Homo sapiens: one gene and its partners. The protein of the gene in region 1 purifies or fractionates together with the protein of each later gene. This does not show direct contact. Each region holds a gene or a part of one and is shown on either strand. Other genes may lie near its edges.

Region 1 (3,715 bases):
TGTACACCTTCATTCCGGCCTCTCTCCACTTCCTGACTGCTGGAACTACATCTGCAAAGAACCTAGAGGGAAGACCACTAAGTTAAAATACAGGAACACCTCATCTAGCCAGATAAAAACCTGTCAAAACAGATGCCATATGTTTCTCTCTTTGTGCCCACATGGTAACCTGAGAAGCAGCTCCCTGAGACTACAAACTCCTGCAGTTCTAATAAACATACTGCCCAAGTTCCAGGCTCACAGCAGATTAGAAGCAACAATCTATGTGGAAAGGAGGATAGTTTTGAACAGACAGCCACTAGTGACAGTAAAAAGGGACTACAGATAAAAGGATGAAATGGGAAAGTGTTTTTTAAATTCCCGAAGAACTCAAAAAAGCAAACAACAGCAATGATATAATATAATCTTTGATGTTCTTCATGACAAGAAAAGGTTAAATTATGTCCACTGTGCTTTAAGAAAGCATGGAAATGCTTTTAGAAAGATCTGCACCCAAAATAATCAAAACAAAGTTTGAAGGCTCAAAGCTATAAACTTATGATTAGCTAGAAAATGGAATTACTTTTTTTTGAGACAGGGTCTTGCTCTGTTGCCTAGGCTGGAGTGCAGTGGCATGATCTCAGCTCACTGCAACCTCTACCTCCTGGGCTCGAGTGATCCTCCCACCTCAGCCTCCCAGGTAGTTGGGACTACAAGCATGTGCTACCACCCCCAGCTTTTTTTTTTTTTTTTTAATTTTTTGTAGAGATGGTGCTTTGCCATGTCACCCAGGCTGGTCTCAAACTCCTGGACTCAAGTGATCCCCCCACTTCAGCCTCCCAAAGTGCTGGGATTACAGGCATGAGCCACTGCACCCGGCCTGCATTTTTTGAGAACTAAGAAAACAATGTTTTATTATATGGGGAAAAAATTACATAACAAGTCAGTTGAGACTTGTACCAACTCACATTAACCAGTCAGCAAAAGATGTCTTTTTCTGACTTCTGACACTCAGTCTCTCTTACCAATTCTAGTGTTTTCCATAGTCATGGAGGAAATTAACATCACAGGAGAAAGGTGAAAAGAGAAGCACAAAGAACTTGGGTTGTAGAACCAGTCATCTCTAAAAGATTACCTGGAAAATGTCAGTGGAGTCTTCCGCTTTATATGTATTAACATGCTTAACATGTTGCACTAATTGAAGGAAAGAGATCAACGTATTCAAAACCAGTACACATGTAAGTATGTTATTCTGAGTACTAGTTTGCACTCATGGAGACAGGATTTTTCCTGTCTTCAGCAGTTAGTTGTATAATTAAGGAACCAAGACCAAGAGAAGTATGGGCTAACTACCGGGTGCACAGTCTCCTGTCTCCACTTTTTTGAGTGCTTTACAAAGTGAACCTGGCTGATATTCCCAGATCACTGGCATATCCTGAAATTCCAGTCCATCCTTTAAAAGGTAGAAGCTCCTCGTAAAGTACATAAATAAAGAAACAACATCTCATTTGACAGAAACACAAAAGAAATATATGCAGCTGGAAACAATCTTGGATCCTAGGGTTTACAGCAGGCAATGGCCTAAAATCCTTAAGAATTTCACACCCAGGTGCAGTGGCTCACACCTGTAATCCCAGCACTTTGGGAGGCCAAGGGGGGGCGGATCACAAGGTCAGGAGATCGAGAGCATCCTGGCTAACACGGTGAAACACTGTCTCTACTAAAAATACAAAAAATTAGCCGGGCGTGGTGGCACACGCCTGTAGTCCCAGCTACTCGGGAGGCTGAGGCAGGAGAATGGCGTGAACCCAGGAGGCGGAGCTTGCAGCGAGCTGAGATCACGCCACTGCACTCCAGCCTGGGTGACAGAGCAAGACTCCGTCTCAAAAAAAAAAAAAAAAAAAGAATTTCTCAGCAGGCCTGGCACAGTGGCTCACGCCTGTAATCCTAGCACTTTGGGAGGCCAAGGTAGGTGGACTGCCCTGAGCTCAGGAGCTTAAGACCAGCCTGGACAACATGATAAAACCCTGTCTCTACTAAAATACAAAAAATTAGCCAGGTGTGGTGGCACGCACCTGTAGTCCCCGCTGTTTGGGAGGCTGAGGTACAAGAATTGCTTGAACCCAGAGGGCGGAGGTTGCAGTGAGCTAAGATTGTGTGAATGCACTCCATCCTGGACAACAGAGTGAGACTATCTCCAAAAACAAAAATAGGCCGGGAGGGGTGGCTCATACCTGTAATCCTAGCAGTTTGGGAGGCTGAGATGGGGTGGACCACTTGAGGTCAGGAGTTCAAGACCAGCCTGGCCAATATGGTGAAACCCCATGTCTACTAAAAATACAAAAATTAGCATAGTGGCAGGCGGCTACTCCAGAGGCTGAGGCAGGAGAATCGCTTGAACCCAGGAGGTAGAAGTTGCAGTGAGCTGAGATTGCGCCACTGCACTCCAGCCTGGGCAAAGAGCAAGACTCGGTCTCAAAGCAAAAACAGAAACAAACAAACGAAAAGAATTTATCAGCAATATGGTATGGACAACATAGCAAGACCACACCTCTACAAAAATGTTTTTTGAATAGCCAGGTGTGGTGGTGCGTGCCTGTGGTCCCAGCTAATGAGGAGGCTGAGGCGGGAGGTTCACTTGAAGGCTACAGTGAGCTATGATGGCACCACTGCACTCCAGTGTGGATCACAGAGCAAGACCCCAGCTCTAAAAAAAAAAAAATAGGCCAGGTATTGTGACTTACGCCTGTAACCCCAGCATTTTGGGAGTCCAAGGCAGGCAGATCGCTCAAGCCCAGAAGTTTGAGACTAGCCTGGGCAACATGGTAGAACCCCATCTGTACTAAAAATACAAAAACTAGCTGGGCATGGTGGCACATGCCTAGTCCCAGCTACTCGGTAGGCTGAGGTGGGAGGATCACCTGAACTAGGGGAGGTCAAGGCTGCAGTGAGCCATGATCATGCCACTGCACTCCAGCCAACAGAGTAGGACCCTGTCTGAATCAATCAAGAATTTCTCAGTAAGTATAATACTCAAAAGTCTCCTCAGGCAGGAGTGCTATTAGGAACTCCATAACCAAGACTCAAAGAATCTGTGGAAGTTGCTCAAAAGAGCAAAGAAGAACGTGGTAGTGCGGACATCCTCTGAGTAACCTCAACACGGTGGGGCACAAAATTTCCTATGTCTCATAGAGCAAAAAGCAGGTAATTAACAGTCCAGGCAAGCAGCCCAACGGAGCTGTCACTCATGTGCTAAGAATCAAATATGACTTAGTTCAAGGAAGTCACCATTTTCTAGGAAGCTATTTTAAACGGAGACTTTGACAAGTCCTTCAATCAACCCACAAGACCAGACTGGCAGGTCCGGGTAATCTAGTCAGCTGAAATATTTTAGCCAAGTTTTGAAAAAATGAAACAAAGCTCACTTGTTAGACTAAAAAGAGTGTGGATTTTTATCTGTTTTACCAGTCTTGTGACTTACGCTGGAAAGAGAGGACTGGTGAAAAAACATATTTGGATTTGGGACTGGTGAAATGTTTAGGCTGACTCAAGCACATACTCTGCTTTCATGCGCCCAGCTGTGAATGCCGCCCTCCACATGTGGCCCTGCAGCTGTTTGAGTGCAGTGGTCTTTCGATCCAGGGACATCTGCCAGCACACATTATCTACCACGGCCTGGATCATCTGTTGCAGATCATCCACTCCATTCCCAGATGCTGCAGGGATAGGAACAGCC
Region 2 (4,002 bases), on another chromosome or scaffold:
TCCTGCCTTAGCCTCCAGAGTAGCCAGGATTACGGGAGCCTGCCACCACGCCCGGCTAATTTTCGTATTTGTAGTAGAGACGGGGTTTCGCCATGTTGATTCACGCGCCTCGGCCTCCCAAAGTGCTGGGATTACAGGCATGAGCCACCGCACCTGGCCGGAAATACTTATTTCTTTTTCAGGCTCTGATATTTGGCCCCAGAAGTCGTGTGTGTGTGTGTGTGTGTGTGTGTGTGTGACTATGTGTTGAGGTTGGTAGGGACAGGGTCTTTGAGGTGGGCCATGAAGGCTGTTGTCTTGGTTCCCTTACTCCAGTGGGTGGGGGAGGTGGGCAACGTGGATCAAAACGAATCCAGGCCAAGCTGGAGGCCTAGGGAGCCTGCGCGCTGAACCTCAAACGTCTGGAGTCCTTTGCCTTCTGAATCCTTTGACCAAGAGAGGCTGATAACATGCAACCACGCACTACGGCTCTGGTTGCAGCCAGACTTGGGTTTAGTTCTATTGTTTACCAGCTGCGTGACATTGGGTAAGAGGCTTAACCTCTTCGGTCCCAAATTCCTCCTTATTAAGATGGGGACAACAACAGAACCCATCTCCCAGGACTGATACCAAGCATTTGGCCACAGTTGCTGCTAGGTGAGGGACAGTCCTGTTTAATACACAACGGAATGTTGATGATCATGTATTGACCACTTTCTGAGCCAGACAATTTGTGTGCCTTTATCTCATTGGAACACCACCATTTCTCTGGATAGCAGATACTATTACCATATTATAAGGTATATAGGCACTTAGCACTAATGGCACAGAGTAAGTGCTCACCAAAAGCTGTTAGTGAGGGCACTTTTGTCATATAGAAGAAAAAAGGAGCATGGAAAAGGCGCTTTGCAAGGTGTAAGGTTCCGCACAAGTTTTTGCTGTAATTGTTACGTCGCCCTTTGTGGTCGTGATCCTTTATTTATTCTTTCTGAGCCACTACGATGGTCCCCTAGTTACCGTGGCCATGGAAACGCGGCCCGCCGTCCCGGATTGGACGGTTCGCGGGTTCCCCCTGGAGGCCACCTTCTGGTCCTGCTGCGGAACGACGGGCGGGCCTTGGAGGCGGGGAGAGGAGCGTCGGGAGTTGTAGGCGATGGGCGTGGCTGCTGCGGAGCGGTGCACGCCGGGAGTTGCAGTTCCCGGGCGAGGCAGTTGACTGCCCCACAACGAGCTCGGGCCTCACCCGGATGGCGGCTGCGACGCGCGGCTGCCGGCCCTGGGGCTCGCTCCTCGGGCTGCTCGGGCTGGTCTCGGCCGCGGCCGCCGCCTGGGACCTGGCTTCCCTGCGCTGCACCTTGGGCGCCTTTTGCGAATGCGACTTCCGGCCCGACTTGCCGGGTGAGGCGCCAGGGAGCCCGGAGCGAGGGGCGGGCGGACGCGGGCAGACGCGGGAGCGCTGGGAGCCCTGGGAGCCCGGCTGGCGCCGGCCAGAGAAGCTGAGGACCCAGAGGGTGGGACCGAGGGGCGGGGCCCGCAGACTTGGGAGGGTGGAGGGTACCCGTTGAGGTCCAGGAGGCCCTGCCAACCTGGAGAGAGGCCTCAGCCAGCAGAACCCTTGGTGGAAGTTCTTGGGCCTCCCCGGAATGGCCTGGCCGTCAAAGGAGAAGTGCAGTGCGCCTTGGGGATGGGCGGGGTCTGCGGCTGACCCCGTTGACAGCTCGCATTTAGAGCTGAGTGCAATCTAGAGGACCGCCTGGTGGGGGCGCTGCCGAGCTGAATCAGGCCCGAAGGTGGCTCTTTTCCGCCACAGACCCCAAGGTTTGCGTGCCATGTGCATAGGCAGCTTGGACAAACGTAAGGACACAGGAGTCCCAGACCAGGTTCCAGACATGATGTTCTCCTTGAACCTCTGCCTCGGTGGGATGTGTCCTCACCATCCTCCTGTGGCCCTAGGTCTGGAGTGTGACCTGGCTCAGCACCTGGCCGGCCAGCATCTGGCCAAGGCGCTGGTGGTGAAGGCGCTGAAGGCCTTTGTGCGGGACCCAGCCCCCACCAAGCCGCTGGTCCTCTCCCTGCACGGCTGGACCGGCACCGGCAAATCCTATGTCAGCTCCCTGCTGGCGCACTACCTCTTCCAGGGCGGCCTCCGCAGCCCCCGCGTGCACCACTTTTCTCCCGTCCTCCACTTCCCCCACCCCAGCCACATCGAGCGCTACAAGGTAGGCTGGATGCGTCCTTGACCACTGTTCTCACCATGGGGTGCCACCCTAGGGAGTAAGTCCTGAGCCCAGACAGGGGAGTCACCTGCTCCAGGCCACACACGGCTGCAGCCCCAGCCCTCAGGACCCATCCTGCACAGAACTTGGGAAGGTGTCATTCTACCTGGCAGGGAGTACTTTGATTCCTTGGGGCAGTAAGGAACCCTGGCAGTACCTACATGCCAGGGTTGTTGTGAGGGACATGAGATTATACCATTGCAGATATCATTTATGGAGCACCTATGTTTGTCAGATAATCTGCACTGTTGTCTTGCTGGAAATCAGCCCCAATTTGTGGCTCAGAGGAAGCATCAGGAAATATTGGCTCTTACTACTACTGTTGTTGATTGCAGGGTACCCACCAGGCTGATCAGTTTCAGCCGTCAACACTGCTGTGTAGTTTCAGGGAGCAGGAAGGAGCCTTCCCCTTTTATAGAAAGCAGCAAGTGTCGTGGAAGGAGCTCTGAACAGGGAAGTGGGAGGCTTGGGTTTGAGTCCCTGTTCTGACTGGCTGTGTGACTTTGGGCAAGTCTCTGCCCCAATCTGGGATACAGTTTCACCATCAGTCTCACTAAGAGGTTGGTGCTCTCTGGAAGACCACATCCTTCCCTAGAAAGGAGATTAGTTTTGGTTTGGGAAGAGGTCTGGTGTTGGGGGAGTTTCTCCAGCTCCCCTGGAACTCCTGTCTCTCCCCTACAGAAGGATCTGAAGAGCTGGGTCCAAGGGAACCTCACTGCCTGTGGCCGCTCCCTCTTCCTCTTCGATGAGATGGACAAGATGCCCCCAGGCCTGATGGAAGTCCTGCGGCCTTTCCTGGGCTCCTCCTGGGTGGTATACGGGACCAATTACCGCAAAGCCATCTTCATCTTCATCAGGTGGGGCCCGGCTTTGCAGTGGGCACAGTGGGGGGGCCACTTCTCAGAGGTTCAGCTCTACAGCCTTAGCCTGTGCTCCCAGCAGAATCCAGTTCCCCATGGGCTTAGCTGGGCTTTCCCAGTGCCCTCCGCCACTCTCAGAGATGACATTGTCATTCCGCCTGGTTGATTTCCCTTTGGACATTCTCAGCAAATTCTGGGCTCAGTCTTTTTGATCGCCACTTCTTTGTGGAAGCCCTGCCAGGTCAAGAAGTTTTCCCTCTTTTGTGGTGAGGAGGACACAGGCCTGGGAAAAATAGGAACAGAGTTCTTGTCCTTTAGTCCCAGCTCTCAGAATCCTCGCTGTGTTTCCTCAGGCAGCATGGCTCCGCCTCTCTGAGCCTCTGTCTCTGCTTCTGAACAGCGGGGCCAATAATGATGCCCCGATGCCTTCCTGGAAGTTCAGTGAGGGAAAGTCAGTTGAGGGACACAAAAGTGTTTTGTAAACTATAAAGTACGTGGCATGTGTAGGTGAATTACAGGGGCCATGGATGTGGACACCATGGAGGGGGAAGTGGAGCGTTTTCAGTGGAGTTGGCTCCTCCCCGCACTGAGCCATGTTCCTATGTCAGGTGGCAGCGGGGAAGCGAGGGTCCAATCCTGCCCTGCGCTAGTCCTCATCTGAGTCTCAGCCTGGGTCCCCCATGGTTTTAGCAACACGGGTGGCAAGCAGATCAACCAGGTGGCATTGGAGGCGTGGCGCAGCCGGCGGGACCGCGAGGAGATCCTCCTGCAGGAGCTGGAGCCGGTCATCTCCCGCGCGGTGCTGGACAACCCGCACCGTGAGTCTGGCTCAGCAGCCCCCTCCCGGGCAGCTTCACCCCACACCCAGGGGCCAGGCTCTCCCGGGG
Region 3 (3,715 bases), on another chromosome or scaffold:
CAAAATTGCCCAACATGGCTGCTTCTGCCTTCAAGTGCAGGGGGAGAGAGGCTGCCAGAGGCAGAAATAAAAGGTACACGTCAAGGAGGAGGAGGCAGCGGCGCAGGACAGGAGATCTGGTTCCTCCAGGCCCAGCCGGGTACACAGGCACAGGAAGAGCAGACTCCGGGTGCTCGTCTTGTGTGCCAGGCACTGCCAGGTGCCATCGCCCCGAGAGCATCGGCACTGGCCCCGAATGCTGGTCAAAGGAAGCTAGGTTGGGACACAGGCCGGCAGCGGGTGCAAGATGCCAGGGAGCAGGCGGCCAGGCGGGCCAGCACATGCGGCTGCAGCTCAGCCATCCCCCCCGGGTCCCGGCAGGCTCGGCATGGGTAGGGGACAGCCAGCCCTGGCCACCCCCTCTGGGCCTGGCACCCACCGGTGTTCCCGGATGTCGGCTCGATAATCGTGTCCCCGGGCTTCAGCGTCCCGTCGCGCTCAGCATCCTCAATCATCCGCAGGCTGATGCGGTCCTTCACGCTCCCGCCCGCGTTGAAGAACTCACACTTGGCCACTGGGAGGCAGAGATGAATCACAGAGGGGACCCCCTGACCACCCCCCCATTGATTCCTGCTCACCCCCCCATTACCTGATACACCCCAGGGTGGGGGACGGGCTTGGGGGTCTGTGGGTTCTGAAAAATTGCCACCTCTCCACTCACCTCCCCTACACCTGCACCTGGGCACTAGCCTATCAGAGCTTCTCCCCCTGCAGCCCATCCTACCGGTCCTGCAGGGCGCTGAGCAACTCTGTGGGAACCAGAGAGGCATAAGCAGCCCTCACTGGGGGGCGCCGCAGAAAACCCCGTCCCCCCACCCACGAGCTGGGCTTGTGGCGGGCAGGCGCCTGGATTTGGGTCCCCTACGCCCCTATGCCCAGCCATACCCAGCGGCCCCTGCCAAAGCAGCTTGATGTCCTGAAGCCACAGCACTGGCTTCCCCATCGGATGGGGACTCGCATACTCTCCCTACAGCCTCCCATTGTCCTCCTCCCCCTGTGGGGCGTCACCTGCCCGGGGAAGGGCTCCCTGCGCGGTTCCCGCACAAGGCCAAGGCCTTCACTTGCACTTCCTTCCTTACTGCAAGTCCTCTCTCCCTCTCCAGCTCTTAAAAATATTTAGTTTTTAAGAGCGAGAGACTGGGCTGCATGAAATGTGATTTGAGGGACCTGGGACCAGCCTGCAGCACCTCAAAATTTCTGAAAGCAACCACCAGACAGGTGTTGCCCCTAGAACCAGGACGAGGCGCTGTGTGTGGTGGGGAGGACTCTCGGGGTCTGGCCCTCTACAGGCCTGCATTCTCGGACCCCTCTGGGTCCCATACTGTGAAACCCTCAGTTAGATCATTCTCACTAGCGCCTGGGGGCCAGCTCCGAAGCAGAAATCAGAGCTGGTGGCCTCCGGCAAGCCACGTGACCAACCTGACCCTCGGTGTGTCTGTCTGTAAAACGGGCATTCCAAAACCTACTTCAAGGGCAACCACCAAGTTTAGACGTCATCCTGTACGGAGCACAGTGAGCCAGCCACGCGTGCTGCGTACGAGTTAAGGGTCCCTATTGTCTGACAAATGAGCACAGAGCCGGCCCTGCTGCCTTGGGGGTCTCTGTGAAGGGGGCTGCTCTGCTGCAGCTCCGAGATCTCCTTCCCTAGAGGGGGGCAGAGGAGGGCCAGGCTCCCACGAGGCCCCTCCTGTGAATCGGCGATCGGTTCCCAACGCACCGACCCCTGACTTCCTTCCCCCAGCGCCTGCCCCAGCTCTCACAGGTCCCCCGGCTGGGACATTAGAGCATCTCAGGATGAAAAAGTCCCAAGCCATGTTACTGGTTCCCTCTCCTTCCCACTCGAACTCCACCCCCTCCATCTGGCCCTGTCGCGGGGTTCTCCGCGGCACCCTTCCTGCCTCCCTCCGAACTCACTTGGCCTTGGTCATCTGAAATACGAAATTCCGTCCCCGCCTTGTCCCCAAGGCCTCTGCACCCACAGCTTTCTCTGTGACGATGCTGAGGTCTACCAGGGCTCTGCGCTCTTGGTGAAGAGCGACCCTTAGGAATTCCCTCCACGTTCTTGAGCCTGGAAACTGCGTCCTGCAAAGAAATGCCCTTCCCCGGAGGCCTCAGACCACACCTCAGGTGACCCCCTGCGCACCCAGGACGAGGCCAGCCACAGACCCTCCAAATTCCCATTCTCTGTCTCATAAATGATGAGCTGAACTATCTGTCCCCACGAAGCTGGCAAGACAGAGGTAACCGCTCCCTGGACAGCGGGTGGCTCACAGCACGTGCTAGGACCCGTCCACTGCTCCTTAGCAGGCATGACGCTAACCCTCCCCACCTGCTTGCTTCTGCCTTTGACCCTCACCCGGCCCTTCACACCCTCGCTGCTTCCACTCCGGCCTCAGTTCAAAGGTCACCTGTTCGTTCCCTGGTCCATCTGCTGGGGAGTCACTTTGGTCACCCTCTGACACAATGCCCTGTTGTGTGTTTTTCCCAAACTTAAGCTGATATGTTCTTGGCCACTCATTAACCAGCGAGTTTTCTGATCCCAGGGCCTTGCCTAAGGGATCCATCCCAGGACCCCCCAGGACCCCCCAGGCCCACGGAGCCCAGTGTAGATGGAGGAAGCCCCTCTCCAAAGCCAGGGCACTCACAGAGCTCACACTTCAGGCCGAACTTCTTCCCAATCTTGTTGATTCTGACCATAGGGGTGTCCCCGATTTTCTTCAGAATATCTGGCAAGATTTTTGGAGATTTTGCCCTGAAACAGAGGAGTCCACAATTATTCAGGAAAAAAAAAAAAAATAGTACCAGCCCTGGCAGACATTGTCTTACACAAATCAACACTCGAAGAACTGGAAAAAAAAAAAAAAAAAAAAAAAAAGAACTGGCTTTATCTGGGTGGTGGTTACACAAATCTGTACACAGATACACCTAACACACATCCCACACACACGCCTGAAACACACATACACACACATGCTTAGACATACAAATCTATAAAAAGCAAATCATGCCTGTGGTTTATTTGCACCAATGCCAGCTTCCCAGGTTTGAAAATGAACCTACAGTCGTGGCAGATGTTGTTAGTGGGAAGCTGGGAGAAGGGTACAAAGGATCTATTATTTTTGCCACTTATTGTGAGTAGTAAATTATTTCCAAATAAAAAAGTTAAAATAAGCAAATACTGACTCCAAAACAAAGGTTTAGGTCCACCTTTTCAGAAAGGCTTTACTGGAGATGACATTTCCTTTCATCTCTCAGCATGTGACCATAGGAAGCAAAAAAGTGTCAGGGCAGAGACTCCTTAGACCAGGGACAATGGCTGCAAAGCGCAGGCGGGATGTCTAGCCCTGCACAGAAAATGTCAGGCACGTGGCAGACTCAGAGCCCCGGCAGAGGCGCTGTCGGCCAGGCTCGTGATGCCCTGCCCTGCAGCATCTGGCTGTGTAAACCCTCAAACCCTGGTCCAGGTGGTTTCCTAAATGGCCCTCATGCCCCTGCCATCCTCCCCCAGGGAGATGCTGATGACACCCCCTATCTATCTGCACCAAGCTCACCACATACTCATCTGGGAACACGCATGGCTTACAGCGGTCTCCAGACCCGCAACCCCTCCCTGGGCCTTGCAGCTCCGATGACACCCCGTGGCTAACCCTGGGCCCCCTCTTCAGCACAGTCACCT

What was found.
Region 2: the proteins of ENOPH1 (region 1) and TOR2A purify together in Homo sapiens (affinity purification with mass spectrometry, with the first as the bait; one large-scale study listed by BioGRID). This does not show direct contact.
Region 3: the proteins of ENOPH1 (region 1) and CBS fractionate together in Homo sapiens (co-fractionation; one large-scale study listed by BioGRID). This does not show direct contact.

The regions. Positions count from the first base shown.
Region 1 is NC_000004.12:82,451,069-82,454,783, reverse strand, and holds part of ENOPH1 (enolase-phosphatase E1), read right to left. Parts: coding exon 3,539-3,715; intron 63-3,538; coding exon 1-62. UniProt on the Homo sapiens protein: Bifunctional enzyme that catalyzes the enolization of 2,3-diketo-5-methylthiopentyl-1-phosphate (DK-MTP-1-P) into the intermediate 2-hydroxy-3-keto-5-methylthiopentenyl-1-phosphate (HK-MTPenyl-1-P), which is then dephosphorylated to form the acireductone 1,2-dihydroxy-3-keto-5-methylthiopentene (DHK-MTPene).
Region 2 is NC_000009.12:127,732,495-127,736,496, reverse strand, and holds the start of TOR2A (prosalusin isoform a precursor), read left to right. Parts: upstream 1-1,202; 5' UTR 1,203-1,226; coding exon 1,227-1,377; intron 1,378-1,932; coding exon 1,933-2,198; intron 2,199-2,936; coding exon 2,937-3,112; coding exon of another isoform or gene 3,113-3,281; exon of another isoform or gene 3,282-3,723; coding exon of another isoform or gene 3,724-3,805; coding exon 3,806-3,933; exon of another isoform or gene 3,934-4,002. UniProt on the Homo sapiens protein: Salusins -alpha and -beta may be endocrine and/or paracrine factors able to increase intracellular calcium concentrations and induce cell mitogenesis. Salusins may also be potent hypotensive peptides.
Region 3 is NC_000021.9:43,065,825-43,069,539, forward strand, and holds part of CBS (cystathionine beta-synthase), read right to left. Parts: intron 2,792-3,715; coding exon 2,685-2,791; intron 2,581-2,684; exon of another isoform or gene 2,233-2,580; coding exon of another isoform or gene 1,954-2,232; exon of another isoform or gene 810-1,953; coding exon of another isoform or gene 701-809; intron 554-700; coding exon 419-553; intron 1-418. UniProt on the Homo sapiens protein: Hydro-lyase catalyzing the first step of the transsulfuration pathway, where the hydroxyl group of L-serine is displaced by L-homocysteine in a beta-replacement reaction to form L-cystathionine, the precursor of L-cysteine.